Linked DNA regions of Homo sapiens. The protein of the gene in region 3 interacts with the protein of the main gene of each other region in a pairwise test. Each region holds a gene or a part of one and is shown on either strand. Other genes may lie near its edges.

Evidence for each region.
Region 1: the proteins of TSPAN12 (region 3) and TMEM140 interact in binary tests that used the Homo sapiens proteins (3 or more experiments, as listed by UniProt).
Region 2: the proteins of TSPAN12 (region 3) and CYBC1 interact in binary tests that used the Homo sapiens proteins (3 or more experiments, as listed by UniProt).
Region 4: the proteins of TSPAN12 (region 3) and CTXN3 interact in binary tests that used the Homo sapiens proteins (3 or more experiments, as listed by UniProt).

The regions. Positions count from the first base shown.
Region 1 is NC_000007.14:135,151,072-135,154,571, forward strand, and holds part of TMEM140 (transmembrane protein 140), read left to right. Parts: intron 1-3,500.
Region 2 is NC_000017.11:82,442,086-82,444,919, forward strand, and holds the end of CYBC1 (cytochrome b-245 chaperone 1), read right to left. Parts: intron 2,507-2,834; coding exon 2,362-2,506; intron 2,040-2,361; coding exon 1,919-2,039; 3' UTR 508-1,918; downstream 1-507. Other genes in the region: HEXD (hexosaminidase D), read left to right, coding at 92-507. UniProt on the Homo sapiens protein: Functions as a chaperone necessary for a stable expression of the CYBA and CYBB subunits of the cytochrome b-245 heterodimer. Controls the phagocyte respiratory burst and is essential for innate immunity.
Region 3 is NC_000007.14:120,789,483-120,792,144, forward strand, and holds part of TSPAN12 (tetraspanin-12), read right to left. Parts: intron 1-2,662. UniProt on the Homo sapiens protein: Regulator of cell surface receptor signal transduction. Plays a central role in retinal vascularization by regulating norrin (NDP) signal transduction.
Region 4 is NC_000005.10:127,652,082-127,655,581, reverse strand, and holds part of CTXN3 (cortexin-3), read right to left. Parts: intron 3,330-3,500; exon of another isoform or gene 3,221-3,329; intron 2,533-3,220; exon of another isoform or gene 2,391-2,532; intron 2,266-2,390; 5' UTR 2,159-2,265; intron 1-2,158.

The sequences.
Region 1 (3,500 bases), about 14 Mb from region 3:
TGCTTCTGACTTTATGTTATAATCTCATGGTATAGTCCTATTTTGTCTGATAAAGCTGTTTTATTTACATGGAATAATTAAGTAAATCAAAACATCACAGCATTCATTAAAAACTTGGTGGTTGGGATGGCTGTCCACAGAAAACACTGGTGAAATCCAGGAGCTGCCACCACCTACACACTGTTGAAAAACACTGCAGTAGCCCTGTTTTGAAAAGAATTAGAACCTGGACTCATGTTTCTACCAAAGGAAATATGACACATTTCCCTTTCTTCTTCCCTTTTTATTTTTGTGACAGCCACACCTAAACCATGAGCACACTGATCTTCAATGTGTTCCACCAGAAATATTTTAGCCAGGACTGGTGGCCTCTGACAAGTAAACCTGCGCCCTTGTTCTATGCCCTGGCAAGCTCTGTTGCCCCGGCTTTATTCTGCTAACATTTTCTTCCCAGTTCTCCTCTCTCCATTCAGGCGACACACCCAACCATGTCTACCTGACTCTCCGTCAATTCCCGTTTCTCCCACTGAGCTATTGCTTCAGCATCATGACCAGAGCAGACACATTGACCCAGTTTGTGTCAGGCCCCAAGCCCTCTATATGTGAGTGAACTTCCTTCAGTCTCACAACAGCCCATGAGGAACGTGACAACTGATGCATTACAGATGAGGATGTGAGGCTCAGGCTGGCTATGTAACTTGCCCAAGGTCATATGACTAGTGAGTGACAGAACGACGACATGCTCCCAGGTCATCTGGCTCTAAAACCCATGCTCCTTACCACCACACTGTGCTACCTCTCAACAGGCAGCTGCATCCTGGAGTCATCACAACCAAACATAAATGAGACCAGCTTCCTAGAGTTCATCTCTGGGAATGAACCCTGGCACTATTTGTCTTCCTAGAATCTCACCACTGTCAGGCTGGTAGCCTGGGCTTAACTTCTCTGAGCCTCAGTTTTCTCTCTATCGTAGTAATAATTTAAATAATACTTACCAGGTCATGTTCTAAATGCCATGCACAAATTACTTCATTTAATTTCCATAACATCTACAAAATAAGTTATATAATTAAAGCCATTTTACAGATGAAAAATCTAGGCAGAAGGATGTTAAGTAACTAAGGTCACACAGCTGGTGAATGGAAGAGCAGAGTCTTGAACCCAGAAGCCATAGCTTCAAGGTCCATGCTCAGAACCAGTATTCCACACTGTCTTCACTACGTCAAATGGGAACAGTGATAATAACATCCACACAAGGGTGTTGTGAAGATTAAATGAGTTAATGCACGTAAAGGGCCAGGCCCCCAGTTAGAGGTAGATCCTCATGGTGATTAACAATGCAGCCTGACAGGCTCCATCATTCACTGGCTGTGTGAACTTGGGCAAGTTACTGACCCTTACTAGGCCTGTCTTCTTCTCTGGAAAATGAAGATGAAAACAGTAACTCTACCCTACATGGTTGTAAGAAATTAATAAGACAATACCTGTTAAGTGCTTAGCACAGGGCCTGGCATATAGTAAATTCTCAAGAGATTTTGAGGTCTGTTTTTAATTATTAATAAGTTCTCACTAAAGTTAGATTCCTTCTCAGACACCTTCCACTGATCAAAGAGTCTCATCAAAGCAAGTTCTTCCCTCCCTGGTCCCCTTTGGCTTTCTGAAATCATTAATTAAAAGAAAGGCCCTAGGAACCTAATGGCTTACCTGTTTTTTCTTTTAATATTCTACTCCGCAAAATTTGCAAAGTGTGTAATGTTTAACAGCAGCAAAATTAAAACATGTAAGTTCCATGCGGCAGTCCTCAAGGCCATGATAGCAACTGCTGCTGGTGGTGCCCGATGGGGAAGGGGCTGCCAAACTATGCATCTGACCAAGGACTAATATCCAGAATCTACAAGAACACAAACAACTCAACAAGAAAAAACAATCCCATTAAAAAGTGGGTAAAGGACATAAACAGACATTTTCCAAAGGAAGACATACAAGTGGCCAAGAAACATATGAAAAATGCTCAACATCACTAATCACCAGATAAATGCAAATTAAAACCACAATGAGATACTATCTTACACCAGTCAGAATGACCATTATTAAAAAGTCTAGGCAGGGCATGGTGGCTCATGCCTGTAATCTCAGCACCTTCAGAGGCCAAGGTGGGCAGATCACGAGATCAGGAGATCGAGACCATCCTGGCCAACATGGTGAAACCCTGTCTCTACTAAAAATACAAAAATTAGCTGGGCATGGTGTCACGCACCTGTAGTCCTAGCTACTCGGGAGGCTGAGGCAGAAGAATTGCTTGAACCTGGGAGGCAGAGGTTGCAGTGAGCTGAGATCATGCCACTGCACTCCAGCCTGGGCAACACAGCAAGACTCCATCTCCACAAAAAAAAAAAAAAAAAAAAGTCTAAAAACTCTAAAAACAGCAGATGTCGTCAAGGATGTGGAGAAAAGGGAATGCTTATACATTGTTGGTGGGAATGTAAATTAATACAACTTTTAGGGAAAACAGTATGGAGATTTCTCAAAGAACTGAAAAACCACGCAATCCAGCAACCTGGGGTATCATATTTATTGATTTGCATATGTTGAACCATCCTTGCATCCCTGCAATAAATCCCATCTGATCATAGTGTATTATCTTTTTGATGTGCCATTGGATTTGATTTACTAGTATTTTGTTGAGGATTTTTGCATCTACGTTCACAGGGATATTGGTCTGTGTTTTCATTTTCTGCTGTGTCCTTGTCTGGTTTTTAGTATCAGGGTGACCCTGGCCTCGGAGAATCAGTTAGGGAGAATTCCTTTCTCCTTGATTTTTTAATAGTTTCAGGATTATTGGTATTAGTTTTTCTTTGTATGTTTGGTAGAATTTGGCTGTGAATACATCTAGTCTTAAGCTTTCTTGGGAGTTTTTTATTATTGATTCAATCTCACTACTCATTATTGGTCTGTTTAGAAGTTCTATTTCTTCCTGGTTCAATCTTGGGGGATTTTGTGTTTCCAGGGATGTATCTATTTCCTCTAGTTTTTCTAGTTTGTGAGCATGCAGTTGTTCATAATAGTCCTTGATGATCTTTTGCATTTCTATGGTATCAGTTGTAATGTCTTTTTCATTTCTGATTGTGTTTATTTGGATCTTCTTTCTTCTTGGTTAATCTAGCTAGTGGTTTATCAATTTTGTCTATCTTTTCAAATAATCAGCTTTTACTTTCATTGATCCCAAGAACTAATATATGAACTTTTAGTTTCATTGATCCTTTGTAAATTTTTTGTCCCTGTTTCATTTAGTTCTGCTCTGATCTTTATTTTTTCTTTTCTGCTAACTTTGGATTTGGTTTGTTCCTTTTCTAATTCCTTGAGGTGCAATGTTAGGTTGTTAATTTGTGATCTTTCTACTTTTTTGATGTAGGCATTTAATGCTATAAACTTCCCTCTTAGCACTTCTTTTGCTGTAACCTGCAGGATTTAGTACAATGTGTTTTTGCATTCATTTCAAA
Region 2 (2,834 bases), on a different chromosome or scaffold from region 3:
GGTGAACTGAGGCACAGGGCAGTACTGACCATGGGGCTGAGGGCAAGTCCCAAGTGTGCAGACTGTGCGTTCATGGCGCCCTCACCTGCAGCCTCCTGGCACAGTGGAGCACCCTCGTGCAGGAGCTGGAGGCTGCCCTGCAGCTGGCTTTCTACCCGGATGCCGTGGAGGAGTGGCTGGAGGAAAACGTGCACCCCAGCCTGCAGCGGCTGCAAGCTCTGCTGCAGGACCTCAGCGAGGTGTCTGCCCCCCCGCTGCCACCCACCAGCCCTGGCAGGGACGTTGCTCAGGACCCCTGAGGGGAGAGCTCATGCCAGGGGGCTCCTGCTGGAGGCTGGGGGGGCTCTGCACTGCCAAATGGCCTGGGCAATACGGGCCCACGTGGGCGTCGTGCCCTCTGGCCCAGCAGTGTCTTGCCCACACTCAGTTCCTGAGGGCCCTGGGCAGCCCCTGGGGGAGAGACTAGAAAACACAGAAGGAAGCAGCACAGGGAGACCCGCTTTGTGATCTGCATGTGTGACACTGATTCTTTGGAAATAAAGAGTGGAAGCTGCAGGTGACACGTGAAGGGTTATTTATGGTTATGATGACCCTGTCCTGCAACGAGGGACTGGCAGCCACTACTGAGGAGGAGGGTCCCATCTCTCTCCTGTCGGCTTTCACCGAGGTCACAGCCAGACGTGGGGCAAAGGTGTTCCCTGTCCTACCCAGCCATTCCTGGGCCTGCCGCCTAGGGGCTCACAGGGCCCAGGAGTCCCCAGCTCACAGGCCAGGGCATCAGGCCAGGCGCGCTCGGTGCACACCGCACCTGGGAGGACCTGGGTACACTCAGGAGACCAAGAGCACTGGCGGGTCAGGATGGTTGGCGTTCAGCTCCTACGGGGTGGGGAGAAGTCTGTAGCCGAGAGCCCAGCCCCCTCCTGCCAGGTCTTCCCAGGTTCGAGAGAGGCTGGAACTCAATTTCTGCAGAAAATCTCCCAGTTTTTCCTGTTTGGTTAGTTTTTTTACAAAGACAGGATCTTGCTGTGTTGCCCAGGCTGGTCTTGAACTCCTGGCCTCAAGCAATCCTCCCACCTCGGCCTCCGAAAGTGCTGGGATTACTGGCATGAACCACTGCGCCCGGCTGGAGCTCCCGGTTTTTAAGCACTGCACGATACTAGAAGAGCTGACCTTTTTTCTGGCCTCACAGCTTATGCTGAAGCTGAGTGTGAGGAACAGAGAGACCTTTCTGTGACGACCGCTGGGGCAGAGTGGTCTATGCGCCGAGATCCTGGCATCAGCAAGGGAGGCGGGTCCTCGGGGAGGGGCAGCTTCCACAGTGTGGCTGCAGCGTGCACAGCCAGGTAGGCCCTGGATGTTCACCCCTCACTGCCCTTGGGGAAGCACCTGACCGCTGGGGATGTCCACCAGGGAGAGGACGCTGTGTCGGGGACAACATGCAGCATCAGCACCCACAAGGGCCCGGCCTGGCCCCGCCTCTCCACTCGCCCGAGGTCTTGCTGTGGCCCAAAGCAGGAGTCCAGGGCTGGCGAGACCTCCGGCTGCAGAAAGGCAGGCCCAGGCCTCACGATGGAGAAAGTCTGGATGTCCTGGTCTGGCCTGCTGTTTCATGCAGTGTGCAAGCAGCAGCATGAGCAGGCAATAGGCCAACTCGGCTGGAGGCACCAACTGAAGCCAAGGCCACGGGTCCTGTGGGCGGTGCACGGGCTCAGGCACACCGGGAATGTGCCACGGGTCCTGTGGGCGGTGCACGGGCTCAGGCACACCGGGAATGTGCCACGGGTCCTGTGGGCGGTGCACGGGCTCAGGCACACCGGGAATGTGCCACGGGTCCTGTGGGCGGTGCACGGGCTCAGGCACACCGGGAATGTGCCATGGGTCCTGTGGGCGGTGCACGGGCTCAGGCACAGTGGGGCTGTCAGCTCTGGCTTGCAGGGTCACCGGCCTCACTGTCGCTGCTCTGAGACAGCTCTGTGGGGCTCTCAAGGCAGTGCAGCTCCAGGAAGCTGGTGATGAGCTTGGCGATGGCTTCCACATCACTGGGCGAGGCCGGCAACGGGAGGAAGGTCAGGTCACCTCGGCATAGGGCACCGTGAGACCCCACAGCAGTCTCCTCCTCGACCACCTACCTCCCGCAGACCCTGGAGCTCCCAAACTGGACCCAGCACTTCCTGGCCTGCTCCCAGCCTCCCCGTCACAGTGGGGCTGCCCCTGAGCCTGCACACGCTTCCCGTGGGCCCCTCTGTGTCCCGTCCACAAACTCATCTCCTCTCCCAGCTGCCCCATAGCTCTGGGCAGTCAGGAACGGGAGTGACCTGCTACGGCTGCAGCTCCGGCCAGATCAAAGTCCCACAGCCTTACCTGCGGTGGCCCATGACTGCACTCTGCGTGAGGGGGTGGGAGAAGCCCGTCGCAAGCCGGAGCACCACCATGTAGCCTTTCCCGAAGTACCGGACCTTCTCCTCCTCCACGCTCACATCACGGACATCATGGAGCAGGACCACCACTGCGGGGAGACGGTCAGTGGCCGAGCCATCCCCGCCCACACATGCTGCCCGGCAGTCGCACCAGCGCCACTGGCATCATCGAAAGCGACAGCCACACTTGGTTGGCAGCAAAAGCATTTGCTGTTTCCTGCCTGAGGCTGGGCCCCGGAGGACTGCTGTGGCCCTGAAGGCAGTGCAGGGTCCTCTGGGTGGGAAGGACGTGCCCGCGGTGCAGGCTGGCGGGTCACATGCACAGCCCGCTGGTTCTCCTGGGAGTGCCGACTGCGGGGACCCGCTCAGCGCGAGGCCATCTTTACACTGCACTGTTCCTCCAGGTCTCCCCAAGGT
Region 3 (2,662 bases):
CACAGACATAGACATACATTCTGTGGGAAACTAACATAGACATCACAAAGACAACTCACCAAAATTTAAGTATTTTACAAAGAGTTCCACTCAAGTATTCTATAAGAGCTCATTCACTCTTAGGTTTATGTGTTGTTTTAATAAGCATCTTTATATGACACAGTGATACAGGAGATAGAAATTATTTAGGCAGATAGTGAGGGTAAAAGAGTCCTCGGTGGAATTTCCCTTTTAACAAAAAGCAGCTCCAAAATCATTAATAGAACTGCCTGAAAAATTGAGCTGTAGACATAGACAAGCAAGCTGGAAGCTTGCACAGGTGAATGCCAGCAGCTGTGCCAACAGAAAAGGGCTACCTGGGGGCCACGTATGTTCAACATGGAGGGTCCATCGTCCCTTGTCTTTGTGTATACAGTAAAGAAACAGGTAATATGGTGCCAGCCAAGTAGAGGACCATCTGCACAATAAAAGATTAGGGTGGGGGGTGGCCAGATTTTCATGCACTATGCGAATGGTACACCTGATCTGACCAATCTTTCGTGCCCTGTGTAAATCAGACTCCGCCTCCTCAAGCTCATCTTTAAAACCTATTGCATTTTGCTGTGGACCGGAAAACCCACTCGGGAACCCTCTCTGCAGGAGAGAGTTCTTCTCTTTCTTGTGCCTATTAAACCTCCACTCTTAACCTCACTCCTTGTGTGTTCGCATCCTTGATTTCCTTGGCCTAAGACAACTAACCTTGGGTATTACCCCAGAGGAACGATGCCACTTCAACGGTATAGTATAATGGTTAAGATCATGAACTGCTATGTCATTTGGGGCAAGTTACTTAATCTCTCTGTGCTTCAGTTTTCTTGTCTAAAAACATAGATGATAATAGTGCTTACCTGTCTGAGATGTTGGGAGGATTAAATGCACAGACACATTTTAACACTTAGAATAGTGCCTCATACATGTTAAGAACCCAGTAGGTACAATCTCTTGTCTGATGTGTCAGTTCACAGATTAGAAAGTAGAAAGATCAAATTAAAAATAGATGGAAAATCTATGATTAGCAGATATTAATGGAAAAGTACGAGGCACAACACTTCATGAAAGAGTATGAAAACACCAGAAGCACAGCATTATGTCACCAGTGAGTACTTCTGCACAGAGCAAGGTGGCTGCTACTGTTTTACAGGACAATGAGATAACTGTCCAAAATGATTACTTGCTCCTGAGACATTAGATCATTAGCTTCCTGATGAAGCAGAGAAATATTTTACATAGTTCGGGAAGAGTCACCTCAAAATTTGTTAAGTTAAAAAGGTTTGGCTTCAGACATCTGGAAAATTAATTTGCATGGCAACTTCATTTAACATCATTACCAAATAATGTGGCACTATTTTCTCACATCTATCTTTGAAGAAATTGATATAAAACAGCCTTGGATCATGTTTAGCTGATTCCTTACCTATGTGCTCGGTACTTAGTACAAAAATGGACTTTTAGTGAATAATTAGCATGAATATATTAATATTTTAGTAATAATAATTATAATAGATTTCAGAATTAGAGGCAAACTGGCTGGGTGTGGGGGCTCATGCCTGTAATCCCAGCACGTTGGGAGGCCAAGGCGGGCAGATCACTTGAGGTTTAGAGTTTGAGACCAGTCTGGCCATCATGGTGAAACACTGTCTCTACTAAAAATACAAAAATTAGCTGGGCATGGTGGTGCATGCCTGAAATCCCAGCTACTCGGGAGGCTGAGACATGAGAATTGCTTGAACCCGGGAGGCAGAGGTTGCAGTGAGCTGAGATCGCCCCACTGGACTCCAGCCTGGGCAACAGAGGGAGACCTTGTCTCAAAAAAAAAAAAGATTTAGAGGTAAACCATTCAAGGATACAAAATTTCAGTTAGGAGGAATAAGTTCAAGAGGTTTACAATACAACGTGGTGACTATAGTTAATAACAATGTATTAGTTATTCAAAAAAGTAAGCCATTCAATAAATATATATGCCGATGATTCAACTCTGTGAAATGCTGTCAGTCAATTACTTGATTTTTACCCTTTCAATAGTCTCTGGGGCTTAAATTGTATCTATATTGGCTTAAGATCTCCTACCTCTTTAGACTAATTCATTTTAAGCTAAGAAACTGTGCCAGAAAAGTAATGTTTCCTTTTCAAATCTGTGAATAAAACAAGGCAGAGGTTGATAATTAAGTACAGTTTATCATGTTTCATATCTTGGCACTGTTTAAAGTCTATTTCAGTTTATCTTAAACAATCACATTTATTTTTAAAATGGTACAGTAAATTCTATCACCTAGGATGGCTGGGGAATGAGACCTATTAATACTGAACACTCTAGAATGGGAGGGGTCCTTGGAAGTCATGAATTCAACTTATTATCTTTTAAAAACATGGCAAAAAAGCACTTGTAGAGTGACATAGCAAAACTGGCATGGGAAGGACCTCCAAAGAATCTCTACTCATATAATCAATGAAAACACTGGTAAAAAACCTGTTAACCTCAATTTTTCTAGAATTCTGGAAATTAACCAAAGTCTTGCGGCAATCTGAGGAGCGTTTATTCACGAAAAGCTGCTGAATCTCTTAGGAACAGCAAGTGCTATGGAATTATCATTTGCCCTATTCCCATCCCTGCTCCCCTCAGCTG
Region 4 (3,500 bases), on a different chromosome or scaffold from region 3:
GGGCCATCTGTGTCCACCAAAAATATTCAAACTATACTTAATCATATGAAATATAAAATTCTCCAAGGGCTGGGCCAAAGGAAAGCCCGCTGATGACAGAGGAGCAGATGCTGAGGCCATCCCTGACATACTCCTTGCTTTTTCATATCCTACTGAGGATCCTCTCACTTTGATTCCTGCTCTCCTTGCAGGATTATCAGAATCTCATTCTATGCCCTTTTTCCATCCAGCCCAAATGAGGCCAGAGTCCTGTTCTTTGTCCATTCTCAACAAAGCCGAGACAGGTATGCATTTTCAGAAAGTCTTTTTTTTTATTTTGAGACGGAGTTTCGCTCTTGTTGCCCAAGGTGGAGTGCAATGGTGCGATCTCAGCTCACCACAACCTCCGCCTCCCAGGTTCAAGTGATTCTCCTGCCTCAGCCTCCCTAGTAGCTGGGATTACAGGCATGCACCACCACGCCCAGCTAATTTTGTATTTTTAGTAGAGACGGGGTTTCTCCATGTTGGTCAGGCTGGTCTTGAACTCCTGACCTCAGGTGATCCACCCACCTCAGCCTCCCAAAGTGCTGGGATTACAGGCATGAGCCACCATGCCTGGCCATTTTCAGAAAGTTCTTTAGGAAAACACCATATAATCCAAAAAGGAAATATAAGAAGAGAAAAGACCATTAACTGTATAACTGATGTAAGGATTTCTGGATCTGTGAAATCCAAAAATTCAGGTAAGAACTAGATAGAGAACCTTTTGAGTCCTTGAGAATGACCTCCTCAGCACAAGCAGGCTGACTAGGACGGTGATACCTTGCTCAGTCCCTCCCTTCCCACCGGGGATCTCCACTTGATGAGCAACATTGTGACCCCAGGAGTAGTCTTCCCCAGCCTTCTCTTCCATACAGGGCAAATGCCAAATCCTTCTCTCCTGGATCAACTCTCATACTTTCTAGGCTTCACCCACAACTCAGGATTTACAGCGAGCAAACCATTCATTTGGGGGCTGCAGTGGTAGGCAACCATTCCAGAAATTCCAGCAAATAACTTATTCATCCTGATTCAGATTATCTGCCATATCTGCCTCTTCAGTCACCCTAGGAATGACTCTGGGACTCAGATTCTGCACGAGGATGCCAAGTATTAGAATGATTTTTAAAATCAGTTTTAATTTGAAGTTTTACCATCCTCTACTGATTAAAAGGCAAGGTACAAAGGAAAGGTTAACCCTCTTTGCATTGAGAAGCCTCCTAAAATATAAATATGTGTATACTCCAATGTCTTCATCACCAAACCTTTCCTGATATACCAAATTATGAGCAAATAGAGGTGAAAGAATTTTTAAAACTCTGTAGCACATTGGGAGTTGTAATCCTCTCCTCTCCCAGCACACTGTGGTGCCCAAGTTCCTATAAAAATAACTGCTTTTGGTCAAAGTATCAACGTCTCCTACTAAATTGCAATATTTTACCTAGGAAAGTGGCACATTAATGTGCTAGCAGGAATTTGTGAGGACCGTTCCCACCTGAAGGAGGGGAAAGTGTGGTAAGTAGAAAGGCGATTGAAGGAAGACCTAGCTGGGAATGAGGGACTCCTGGACAGGACAGGAAGACAGGCATGGTGGTGTGAACAGGGGGCCCACTGGAGAGCCCTAGGGGAGGGATGAGGGATGGTGGGTAGAGACAATCAGGAGGTGGTTGCTAAAGGGATAAAGAGATCCAGAAACCAATGCTGACTAATTCACAATTTTGCCCAGGACTGATTGAAATCCCTGGAAGAGTCTGCTTGATTTTAAACCTGCAATCAGCTAATCAATAATTTACCGATTTAGAAAGCTCCAACAGCATGTATAAGTTGAAGGAAGCATCAGCTATTATAAGGTGGAGAAAAAGAAATAAATGTAATCATTTTGCTACCACAATACAAAAATATCTCAAGACATGTAAATTTTTAAATGTCTGTCTCGCAGTAAAATGTCCCTTTTTGGTAAAAATGATTCTTAGAAAATGTGCAAGTTTGCTTTTAACTGAATAATGACATCTTTCTTTTAGATGACCAGGGAAATCTGTGCAAGTCTATTATTTCAAAGGATTTTGATACCACCATCAGAAGCCTTCATAATAACACATGGCAGCTATTTTAAGTATAAAGAAGGACCACAGTTACTCACAGCCATATTTTAATCCTGATAGGCTTTCCTCATCACGCAGTACATCTGTGTCTTCCCTTTGTCAGGTCCATTTGTGGGTGCTCAGGAAATAGAGTCTAATTTTAATACTGAAAAATTAAAGAAAACCTTAATTAAAAGATACCCTTTTCAAAAGTCATATAATACATTCCCTTGCTCGAGTCAAGCTCCCTTGTGATACTGACAAAAACAGAAGACACCCATAATTACTTACGAAGCCCAGCAGGCGTAGTCATTGCAGCCAGGGTCATTCACACTCTTAGTCACTTGCTTTAGTTTTAGTAATTTTCAAAGTGGCGTTCCTCATCCCTTGCCCATGCTTCCTACACACTGCATCTCGATTCATCTTTTTAAGCCCAGATCTCACCACTCTTCCCCTCAGAAAACCTTTGCACCCCAGTGTCCACAGCCCATTAACCCCCTTGTGGGCCTGATGCCCAGATGTTTTCCGGACCACAGATTAGGACCTATGCTGACAATGGAATTTTTAAGATCTGAGTTTTATTTTTATAAGTTTAGAAAGGAGTCAACACCAAATCACATTTAGTTCTCAGTAAAATGGCCAATGTGTTGATCAGAATAAACTTCCGTGTAACTGAGTCTGTGGACACCTGTGGAGAATGTCCTCATTTTGTCTGTTTTTCAGCTTGATCCAATACCTGCTGTGCTCTAACACCTCCAGGTTTCCTACCTCATAATACTTGCCTCCTCTCCTTCTTTCCATCTGTGGAGAGGAGGGGAGGCAAGCACTATGAGGCAAGCATCTTTCCTCTCCTTCTTTCCATCTCTCCCTCCCTTAGGGTTCACACCAAATACCCACTTCTCGGTGGGGCCTTCTTTGTTTCCCTTCACCAAGGATGGGGTGTTTTTTACTCCATCTCCAGAGACATCACCTGTACTCGGTGGCAGCACTGATTACAGTGCGAGTCTTGACAGTGTTTATCTCCTCCTTATTACACAATAAGCTCCTTGAGGAATTATTTGCTGTTCTGGGATCATTGCCTTTTTAAATATAAGTTAAATCAAATCTTCAACCCCTTACAGTCCAGGGAACTGAATTCAAAACCCGAGGTGCCAGCTAACTGATGCAGAGAGGAAAAACAAAAGCACAAGTCATCAAGCCGGACTGAGGTGCTGGACCATCACATTTGAAGTAAGTCTTGTTTGAAAGAAAGACAGCTAGTTCAAGTCACAATGACACTTTAAAACCCACAGATCTTGTAATTTGAAGAGCCATAAGTTATTTGGCTCATTAAATTTTCCTTGGCCTCCGTGTTGATGGGTGGAATCTGAAATATAAAAATCAGCCAGAAATTGAAAGTTA